Linked DNA regions of Homo sapiens. The protein of the gene in region 1 interacts with the protein of each later gene in a pairwise test. Each region holds a gene or a part of one and is shown on either strand. Other genes may lie near its edges.

Evidence for each region.
Region 2: the proteins of TCN2 (region 1) and PAXIP1 interact in a two-hybrid assay, tested with the Homo sapiens proteins (one study listed by BioGRID and IntAct).

The regions. Positions count from the first base shown.
Region 1 is NC_000022.11:30,623,981-30,627,875, forward strand, and holds the end of TCN2 (transcobalamin-2 isoform 1 precursor), read left to right. Parts: intron 1-2,479; coding exon 2,480-2,541; 3' UTR 2,542-3,291; downstream 3,292-3,895. UniProt on the Homo sapiens protein: Primary vitamin B12-binding and transport protein. Delivers cobalamin to cells.
Region 2 is NC_000007.14:154,944,003-154,951,299, reverse strand, and holds part of PAXIP1 (PAX-interacting protein 1), read left to right. Parts: intron 1-1,809; exon of another isoform or gene 1,810-2,002; intron 2,003-3,209; exon of another isoform or gene 3,210-3,296; coding exon 3,297-3,397; exon of another isoform or gene 3,398-3,402; intron 3,403-3,526; exon of another isoform or gene 3,527-3,607; intron 3,608-4,447; exon of another isoform or gene 4,448-4,486; coding exon 4,487-4,621; exon of another isoform or gene 4,622-4,707; intron 4,708-4,712; coding exon 4,713-4,788; intron 4,789-4,806; exon of another isoform or gene 4,807-4,874; coding exon 4,875-4,935; exon of another isoform or gene 4,936-4,940; intron 4,941-6,679; exon of another isoform or gene 6,680-7,135; coding exon 7,136-7,151; 3' UTR 7,152-7,297.

The DNA.
Region 1 (3,895 bases):
TATACATATATACACACATATATATGTATACATATATACACACATATATATGTATACATATATACACACACACACACACACATATATATATATATATATATTTTTTTTTTTTGAGATGGAGTCTTGCTCTGTTGCCCAGGCCGGAGTACAATGGCGAGGTCTCAGCTCACTGCAGCCTCTGCCTTCTGAGCTCAAGCAATTCTCCTGCCTCAGCCTCCCAAGTAGCTGGGATTACAGGTGTGTGCCACCATGCCCAGTTATTTTTGTATTTTTAGTAGAGACGGGGTTTCACCATGTTGGCCAGGCTGGTCTCAAACTCCTGACCTCAAGTGATCTGCCTGCCTCAGCCTCCCAAAGTGCTGGGATTACAGGCGTGAGCCACCACGCCTGGCCTGCAAACAGACCCTTAAAAGTCATCTGTTCCTACTCTTGTTATTTAAGTTGCTTTGATACTCCACCCCTGAAGAACTTTTATGGGGCACTTACCATGTGTCAAGCATTGTGGCGAGTGCTTATAGAGAAGGTGGGACTTTCTGAGGGAGCCCACAAAAAAGCATTCTTTTCTTGCCCTCATTCTGAATAAATTGAGGAATAAAAAATAGGAGCTACAGATGGAGACCCCAAGTCTGGCCAGTTCTATTACTGATAAAGACAGGAGGGTGAGAGCTAGGTGGACCCAGCCAGGAAGCAGACCTGGGCAGTTGTAGCCTCTATCTCCTTCCCCCTCTGCCCTTGAGTCTAGAAGGAAGCCCGCTCCCAGGAGAAAAATAGCGCCCAGGCTACACATGCCTAGTTTATTCTTCCCAAATCAACCAGTTGCATAAATCACTCCTCTATCTTCCTTGGGGTGGAAAGTGGATGGGAGTTATAATTTGAGTTCTCTTTTGTCTTAGTCCATTGAAGCTGCTATTACAAAATACCATAAACTGGGTGGCTTATAAACAGCAGAAATGAGGCCGGGTGCGGTGGCTCATGCCTATAATTCCAGCACTTTGGGAGGCCAAGGCAGGTGGATCACCTGAGATCAGTAGTTCAAGACTAGCCTGACCAACATGGTGAAACCCTGTCTCTACTAAAAATACAAAAAATTAGCTGGGGGTGGTGGCGGGCACCTGTAATCCCAGCTACTCAGGAGGCTGAGGCAGGAGAATCGCTTGAACCCAGGAGGCGGAGGTTGCCGTGAGCTGAGATCACGCCATTGCATTTCAGCCTGGGCAACAAGAGTGAAACTCCATCTCAAAATGAAATAAAATAACAGAAATGTATTTCTTAACAGTTCTGGAGGTTGGGTGGGCAGTCCCAGATCAGGACACTGACAGATTCAGTGTCTGATGGGGGCCCACTTTCTGGTGTTACCTGCTGGCTGTGTTCTCACATGGTGGAAGGAACATGGCAACTTTCTGGGGCCTTGTTTTTTAATTTAAAAAAAAAAAATATTTTCCTGGCCCTTGCCTGCTGAAGGAACCTCTTTTATAATGGTACTTAAAAATTTTTTTTTTTGAGATGGGGGTCTCACTCTGTCACCCACGCTGAGTGCAGTATCACAATCTCAGCTCACTGCAACCTCTGCCTCCCTGGCTTAAGCGATCCTCCCACCTCAGCCTCCTGAGTACGTGTGACCATAGGCCCATGGCACAAAGCCCAGCTAATTTTTTGTATTTTTAGTAGAAATGTGGTTTCACCATGTTGCATAGGCTGGTCTCGAACTTCTGAACTCAAGTGATCTGCCTGCCTTGGCCTCCCAAAGTGCTGGGATTCTAGGTATGAGCCACCCTGCTCGGCCTATAATGGCACTTTCCTATCCCATTGATGAGGCTCTACTCTCATGACCTAATCATCTCCCAAAGGCCCTAAGGCCTCCTGATACCATCACCTTTGGGGTTAGGTTTTAACATATACATTTTGGGGGGACACAGACATTTTAGACCATAGCACCTCCATTGAAAGGAAACATTTCTGACACCTGGCTATCTCAAAGGGCCCTTTCAGTTCCCCTGCAGGCTGCATTCCCACATCACCAACAAGAGCAGCGACACTCACTCAGAGGTTAAATAACTTGTCCAGAGTCACAGCAGTAATGAATGACAGAGCTGGGGCTTGAATCCAGGCGTCCTCCTAGAGCCTGGATTCTGTGTAGTGAGTGAAAGCTGACTCCTGGGAGACTTCTGCGTGGTCCTGGTTCTCTCTCCAGACTGCACTGCGCAAGTTTCTCTTCCTGATGGTCCCTAGGGTATTACAAAGACAGTGGCCCTGCCTGTCAGGTGTTTTTATTACCAGATGAGGTCATGGCCTCAGGAACCCTGTGGGAAGCTGAGTTCAGAGTCTTTGAGCAGGCTTTAGGGAGGTTCCAGCTTCCCACCACCAAGCCCCAGGTGGATTCTTACAGACTCTAGCCTCAGGGTGGGGGGTCTGGAAGATGAGGTTGCGGGGTGCGATATTCTGCCCAATTCGCCCCTCCTTGCTCAATCTGTTTCTGCAGGTATTGCTGACTACAGACCCAAGGATGGAGAAACCATTGAGCTGAGGCTGGTTAGCTGGTAGCCCCTGAGCTCCCTCATCCCAGCAGCCTCGCACACTCCCTAGGCTTCTACCCTCCCTCCTGATGTCCCTGGAACAGGAACTCGCCTGACCCTGCTGCCACCTCCTGTGCACTTTGAGCAATGCCCCCTGGGATCACCCCAGCCACAAGCCCTTCGAGGGCCCTATACCATGGCCCACCTTGGAGCAGAGAGCCAAGCATCTTCCCTGGGAAGTCTTTCTGGCCAAGTCTGGCCAGCCTGGCCCTGCAGGTCTCCCATGAAGGCCACCCCATGGTCTGATGGGCATGAAGCATCTCAGACTCCTTGGCAAAAAACGGAGTCCGCAGGCCGCAGGTGTTGTGAAGACCACTCGTTCTGTGGTTGGGGTCCTGCAAGAAGGCCTCCTCAGCCCGGGGGCTATGGCCCTGACCCCAGCTCTCCACTCTGCTGTTAGAGTGGCAGCTCCGAGCTGGTTGTGGCACAGTAGCTGGGGAGACCTCAGCAGGGCTGCTCAGTGCCTGCCTCTGACAAAATTAAAGCATTGATGGCCTGTGGACCTGCTACAGTGGCCTGGTGCCTCATACTCCTCAGGTGCAGGGGCAGGGACAAGAGAAGGGGGAAGTAACCCCATCAGGGAGGAGTGGAGGGTGCCTGAGCCGCCATGTGGGCATTGGGGGAGTGATGGGAATGCCAGCAGTGATGACATTGACTACTGACTGAGCACCCACTACTATGACTGAGCACTCACTCGCTAGATACTATCTTGAACTGCTCTGTGAGGTTGTTGATATTTTCATTTTTATCTGTGCTTTACAAATCAGGAAACTGGGAGGCCGGGCATGGTGGCTCACGCCTGTAATCCCAGCACTTTAGGAGGCCAAGGCAGGTGGATCACAAGGTCAGGAGTTTGAGATCAGCCTGGCCAACATGGTGAAACTCCATCTTTACTAAAAATACAAAAAATTAGCCAGGCATGGTGTTGCATGCCTGCATGCCTGTAATCCCAGTTACTTGGGAAGCTGAGGCAGGAGAATTGCTTGAACCCTGGAGGCGGAGGTTGTAGTGAGCCGAGATCACGCCATTGCACTCCAGCTTGGGCAAGAAGAGAAACACTCTCAAAAAAAAAAAAAAATCAGGAAACTGGTGCTCAAAAAGGAAAAGTGACTCACCAAGGTCACAGACTAGGCAGTGATGCTGGGGGAACCTGGCTCAGGGGACACAGACCTGGCCTGGGGCAGCCTTGCAGCTCCTCCACTAAAATACTGAAAATGAGGGGCTTCGATGATGGTTATAATCGTATGGCAGAGCCCCAACTCAACTGGAGCCCTGGGACCCAGAAGCTAGGGTCTCACTCCCTGCTTTTCCACAAGGCACCA
Region 2 (7,297 bases), on another chromosome or scaffold:
CCCAAAGTCCATAGTTACATTAGGGCTTACTCTTGGCCAGTCACCCGAAGTCCATAGTTACATTAGGGCTCCCTGTTGGCCAGTCACCTGAAGTCCATAGTTACATTAGGGCTCACTCTTGGCTAGTCACCCAGAGTCCATAGTTACATTAGGGCTCACTCTTGGCCAGTCACCCAAAGTCCATAGTTACATTAGGGCTCACTCTTGGCCTTGAACAGTCATTGGGTTTTAACAAATGTGTAAGGACATGATTTTGCTTTACAGCGTCATATGGAGTTGTTCCACTGCCCTGAAAATCCTCTGTGCTCCACCCACTCATTCCTTCCTGCCTGCTGACCCCTGGCAACCACTGATCTTTTATTCTTTCTATAGTCTTGCCCTTTCCAGAATGTTACATATTGGGAATCATACAGTATATAGGATTTTCAGATTTGCTTCCTTTGCTTAGCAATATACGTCCCAGCTTCCTCCATGTCTTTTCATGGCTTCATAAAGCATTTCTTTTTAGCACTAAATAATATTCCATTGTCAGAATGTATCTGTTCAGCCCCTCACCTACACAAGGACATCTTAGCTGATTCTAAATTTTCGCAGTTAGCAGTAAAGCTGCTAAAACATCCATGTACAGGTTTTAGTGTGGACGTAAGTTTTCAACTCCTTTTGGTAAATCAACAAGGTTGCAATTGCTTGATCATATGGTAAGAGTATGTTTAGCTTTGTAAGAAACCGCCAGGCTGTCTTCTGAAGTGCCTGTGCCATTTTGCATTCCCACCTGCAGTGAATGGGAGCTCCTGTTGCTCCACATCCTCCTCAGCATATGCTGGTGTTAGTGCTCTGGGTTTTGGCCATTCTAATAGGTGAGGTCCAGGTTACTTCTTATTTCTTTCATGGATTGTGTCTTTGGTGTTGTATCTAAAAAGTCATTGCCAAACTCAAGGTCCCTTAGATTCTCTCCTGTGTTATCTTCTAGGAGTTTCATAGTTTTGCATTTTACATTTAGGTCTGTGTTCCATTTTTGGGTCAGTTTTTTTTAAAAGAGGGTAAAGTCTGTGTCCAGCTTCCTTTTATTGCATATGGATGTGCAGTTGTTCCAGCATCATTTGTTGAAAACACTCTTTTCTCCACCTGTTTTGGTAGGTGCATGTTTTTGGGATTTTATATTTATGTGTAACTTACATAAAATTTGAGACATCAATATTATAATCAATTTCTAGGATACTCATTTCTTTTGTACTTCCATGAAAAGTTTAATGTTCAGGTTGAGTCTTTACATTGCTACTACTAAGGTAACATAACCCTGTTTGAAAAAACCAAAATCTCAATGTCTCATCTGTGACAGGATCGTCTTAGCTGTATTACTGTATTTTTCAATATTACTTTCTTTTCTTTTTAAGACAGAGTCTCACCCAGTCTGTTGCTCAGGCTGGAGTAGAGTGGTGCCATTGGCTTACTACAACCTCTGCCTCCTGGGTTCAAGCCATTCTCCTGCCTCAGCCTCCCTAGTAGCTGGGACTGCAGGCGCCCACCACGACGACGCCTGGCTAAATTTTTTTGTATTTTTTAGTAGAGACAGGGTTTCACCATGTTGGCCAGGCTGGTCTTGAACTCCTGACCTCAAGAGATCCGCCCACCTCGGCCTCCCAAAGTGCTGGGATTATAGGCGTGAGCCACCGCGCCCGGTGGTGTTTTCTCTATCATAAACATTAACTATTCTTGGTGATCTCACACAAGTTCTTCAGAAGGCATATCAGCTTTGAAAGTAACACTTCAAATATACCATCTCATGTGTAACAGTACTTTTTTTGTTCCTTTTTTAATTCATCATTTTTTGTTTTTCCAAATTTTAGACATTCTTTTTCTCCTTTCACCTAAAAAGCAGCCTTTCTATCTGCTGGTTGACTCAGGGATTGATTTTGTATTTCTGGCCGTTGGTGAACAGATCCCTGCATTTCTGTCATGATGTGGTTGCTCCTGCCCAGCAGTCAGCAAACTGGTCCATACGCTGAAAATGGTTTTTACATTTTTTAAATATTGCTTAAAAAAGAGAAGAGGAATATGCAGGAGAAATAATACATAGCCCACAAATCCTAAAATATGTATCATCTTGTCAACCCCAGTTTGCCAATCCCAAATCACTTTTCCTTGTTTTCTGCTTTTGATGTATATATTATTGGGTTTGAGCTGCCTTATTATGCTGTATGGTTGGTAGGAAATGGCGGCGGAGGAGAAATGGTTTTCTGAATATGAGGCATATTTATAGGAAGATTGAAACATTTTGTGATCTTTACCTTTTGACACATTTCTTAAAATGTTGCTATGAAAACTGAAAATCTGTCAATTATTAATAATTGTCAGAAGTCTTTAAAAATTGATAAAACTATCCTTTATAAATTGCTGTATACTTTTATATACTTGAATGTGTGTTTGGTAAATCTTTAAAGTTTGGTAATTCACATAATTGATTATGAGCCAAATGACTCCAATGTCCTACAAGTCCTTGAGGAGTTAGTGTATATATATAACATATATATATATAATATACACTTGGATGGGATTATTTGAAGCTTGTCTTTCTAGGACTGGAGATTTTAACCTGAGATCTGCGGGCTTGGAAAGTTGGTGAACTTCCTAAAATAGTCGGGGGGTAAAGAGGGGAGGAGCAGCTATGGGAAGAGGGTTCATATTTTTCAGTAATTTTTTTTTTCTTTTTTTACATTTTTGTTGTTAAAAAAAAAAAAATTACTATTATTTTGAGACCAGATCTCACTTTGTTGCCCAGGCTGGGGTGCTGTGGTGCAATGATGGCTCACCACAGCCTCGAACTTCCCAGACTCAAGCGATCCTCCCACTTCAGTCCCCCGAGTAGCTGGGACTACAGGCACATGCCACCATGCCAAGCTGATTTTAAAATTTTTCTGTAGAGATGAAGTCTCACTGTGTTGCCCAGGCTGTTCTCGAACTCCTGGCATCAAGCAGCTTTCCTTCCCCGGCTTCCCAAAGTGCTGGAATTACAGGCATGAACCACCACACCCAGCCCGTTTTTTTCAAGAGTTTATGACCCCAAATGGTTAATTACCACTGATCTAGGAGAAAAAATACCTGTCTGTCTTTTTGGTCTGGCTGTTTTTAGAGGGAAGTAAATGAAATATAATGGTGACATTTAAATATCCGAAGGCTGTACAGGTAAATGTAGCTGTAATATTATGTACCTGAATATGGGCGAGAATTTTGTGGGTCACACTTGCCACACTTCACGTGTCCACACTTTTCAGAGTATGTGCTGTTCTGTTTTCCAGATGAGCAGAACTACATTCTCCGAGATGCTGAGGCAGAAGTACTTTTCTCTTTCAGCTTGGAAGAATCCTTAAAACGGGCACACGTTTCTCCACTCTTTAAGGTACACTTTAAGGGAAAAGTAAATCAGTCCAAGTAAGCATAACACACGGACCTGCTCAAGGGAACTACCAGGTGATTTGGTGGGAAGTGCGCCTCCAGGGGAGCTGGGCTCACCCTGCATCCCATTTACCTCTTGGCTTCCTTCTTGGACATTGCCACTGGAGGTCTTCCTCCTGTGAACCACAGCACATCTCTAGAGAACTTTTCTTTACTATAATGTTTAAAAATAAGTACACAAATTTAATAAATACATCTATGAGAAATAAGTTATTCAAAGAATAGGTTTTTGAGTAATTGGTTAAGAGGCATGTTCATTTTTCTGCTTTTAATAAATCTTTAGAGGACATCGCTTACTTCGTACTATTGTCAGTAAATGTATATTCAGCTGGAGAAGATACTTGGGAAAATATTCAGTGTGTGCATAGATATAATTCAGTACTAAAAGATTTTTAAATGTTAGATAAGTGTTAGAACAGCTAGGAATTTTTTTTGTACCAAAGAACTAAGTAAATCAATAAAGATAATCGGTTCTTTAACCTTCTTAAGGAGTCAACAGGAATTAGAAATTATTTGCAGTTTCAGACAGAATAGTATTTTGTGGTATCCTCAGGAGCAATCTTGTTAGATAATTAAATCTTAAGCATCAATATCATTTCCTGCTCTGAGTTCAAATAATATGGAGAAAATAAAGAAAAGGGATATAAGCCAGGCAGCATGCTATGCCAGAGGCTGTTGCTGGGCAGATAAGTGTGGTGAAATATAATGCTGATTTAAAATTGTATAGAAATTGTGAAAAATATTTGTAATATTCTTGCTTATTCACAAAACACTTTGTTTTAGGGACTTAAGTTCTGGTTACTTTAAATCATCTTCAGGCATACTTAACATGTGAAAATGCTTACATTCCAAATTTACATAGCTGGATTCCTCTTCCACTTCAGATTGAGTGCTAGTAGGAGAATAGTACCTTCATAATGTCATAAAATTTGAAATTTTGTCAAAAATCTCAGGGCAGAATCTATGAGAATTATGTACTCTAAAAATTAAAGCATTTTAAGAACATAATACATATATTTTCATTTAATTTTAGGCAAAATATTTTTACATCACACCTGGAATCTGCCCAAGTCTTTCCACTATGAAGGCAATCGTAGAGTGTGCAGGAGGAAAGGTGTTATCCAAGCAGCCATCTTTCCGGAAGCTCATGGAGCACAAGCAGAACTCGGTGGGTAGAGTGGAGTCCGCCAGCGAGTCCGTCATTGCCCTGTATCACATTCAGCGTTCGGTCACTGAGAAACTCATTTTCTTTTCCTTAGAGTTTGTCGGAAATAATTTTAATATCCTGTGAAAATGACCTTCATTTATGCCGAGAATATTTTGCCAGAGGCATAGGTACGTTTCCCCGCTTACCTGTGTGAGTATGTGTGCACGCACAGCAGTGGATCTCTAACTAAAGTGTCTGTTTCCACCCTGTTCAGATGTTCACAATGCAGAGTTCGTTCTGACTGGAGTGCTCACTCAAACGCTGGACTATGAATCATATCCTTTCCAAAAGAGAATTAAAAAGTAGACGGGTTAGATATGAAATGGATTTCCCAGGTTAATAAGGCAGTACCTTTCCTGTTTTGCAAGCCATTTTTCCTTTCTTTGCTATTGTGATTTATGCAGTGAACAATTCTTTTCTCTTCAGAATATTCATTTGAGTTGCTAGTAAAAATATTCTCTTAACTTACTGAGAGTTCAGTTTTAATAGGTGATGTTAATTAGAAAGGATCTATACTGTCTAGTTTATGGAGGTATTAAAGAATTTGACAATTAGATAAAATAGAAAATAATTGCAAAAATAAATATATGTTTCTTTTTATCAGCTCACCTTTGAGTTTGTAGTTTTCCAAATGAAATTTAGTTCGTATATAGTCTTTGTACTCAGGAACTTTGGGATGGGAGATAAATTACTACTAAATGGAAGCGGCAGAATGAATACTTCATCAACATGTCAGGAAAATGCAAAGGTCAGTCTTTAGAATATTGACACCTAGGCTTTTTTCTATTTCAGACATTCAGGAAAAAATAAAGCTCATCATCTGTTATTTGAATTCCTTATTAAAAATCTCTGAATTATTATTTTAATGTAGGAACAGCCTATCAGTGAAGCAAAACATGCCTTACAGGTCCTTATGGGAAAATTCTGTTTCCACTTCCGTTTCCCATTGCAGAGCACCTTCTCTCAGGGCTGTTCTCAGGACTTCTCCCTGGGCCTCCTGCAATGAGGCTGGAGCTCCTCCTCTCTGTGAGGGTGGGAGCCTCTGCCACCTCTGACCAGTGTCAACCTCAGTGGACCTTTCCTTAAGCAGGGGAATTTTGTGTTTGGGATAGGACTGCTTCAGTAAGGCGCAGAGGTCAGAATGATACCCATCCTTGCCGAGTTTTTTTTTCTTCGTGTGTGCCTGTTTCATCCAGGTAATTACATTTAAGTATATTTACATTTAAATACACTGACATTCATCCAGTTAATTACATTTATCAAACATTTTCCTCTTAACGCTAAAGAGCTTATGGTTATAATAGTAGACAGAAGACCTTGATATCACTGAGAGAAAAGCACTTTTAAGAAGTAAAATTTGGCCGGACGTGGTGGCTCATGCCTATAATCCCAGCACGGGAGGCCAAGACAGGTGGATCACCTGAGATCAGGAGTTCGAGACCAGCCTGGCCAACATGGTGAAACCCTGGCTCTACTAAAAATAGAAAAAATTAGCTGGCCATGGTGGCGGGTACCTGTAATCACAGCTACTTGGTGAGGCAGGAGAATCACTTGAACCTGGGAGGCAGGGGTTGCAGTGAGCCAATATCGCGCCATTGCACTACAGCCTGGGCAACAAGAGCGAAACTCTGTCTTTAAAAAAAAAAAAAAAAAAAAAGAAGTAAAATTTGCCTCAGTCCCAGAATCCAATGTCATGTTTAGCCATAAATAAATAGCCTGTCTAGTTGGAATGAGGCTTGGTGCAGAAACGCTCTTACCATTCATACCAGAGCTTGCTGTATTCCATACCGCCATCTATTAGAAAATTATTGTAGGAGCTACTGATAGGAATGATAAGAGGCCTGTTAAATTTTTACAGATATGCTATAAGCATTTGGTTTTTATACAACATGTACTCTTGCATTTTTTCCAGACTTTTTCCTAACATTCATGTTTGTATTTGTGAAAGCCTGTTCTACACTACATTTACTTTCAGAAGAAATTGCTTTAAAAGTCATACAGGAGACTTATGAGTATTACCTTGGGGGCCTTTTTTCATATCCATAGCTTGATGAATTTTGCCCAAAGTGGACGGTTTAGAATTGCAGAGGTCACTACCTGCTCCTGCAGGTATAAGTAGGAGTCAGCTATTTGTGGTGGGGCTTTGGGGATGTCAGCTCTTGGGGGTTGTGTGTTGTACATGTTAATTTAAAGGACATTTCAGCTATTGCTGGGCCTCAGTTCTGGCCGCATGGTGGATACCTTGCGGAGCTGGCACAGGTGCTGATGTCCCCGGGCTGAGTGAGCCTGTGTGTCGGGGCTGAGGGCCTCCTGTGATGTGGGTATGCAGCAGAGCGACTGGTTTGAATGGGTAAGAAAGAGGCTGTAGCATTCCTTCAAGGGTGTCTCTGAAACTGGATGATGAATGTTGGAACCCTTGGTTTCATGTTTTTCTTTTGCCTTGTGTTTGAAAGTCGTTTTCCTCAACAAGCCTACATATAAGTTTAACTGATGGCGTCTAGGCTGCCGTGCATGTCGACTCCTGCGGTGCGGGGCTGGCTGTCTGGCTGGCGAGGAGCTGCTGCGCTTCCTTCACATGCTCTTGTTTTCCAGCTGCTTTCCTGGGGGATCAGACTGTGAAGCAGGAAGACAGATATA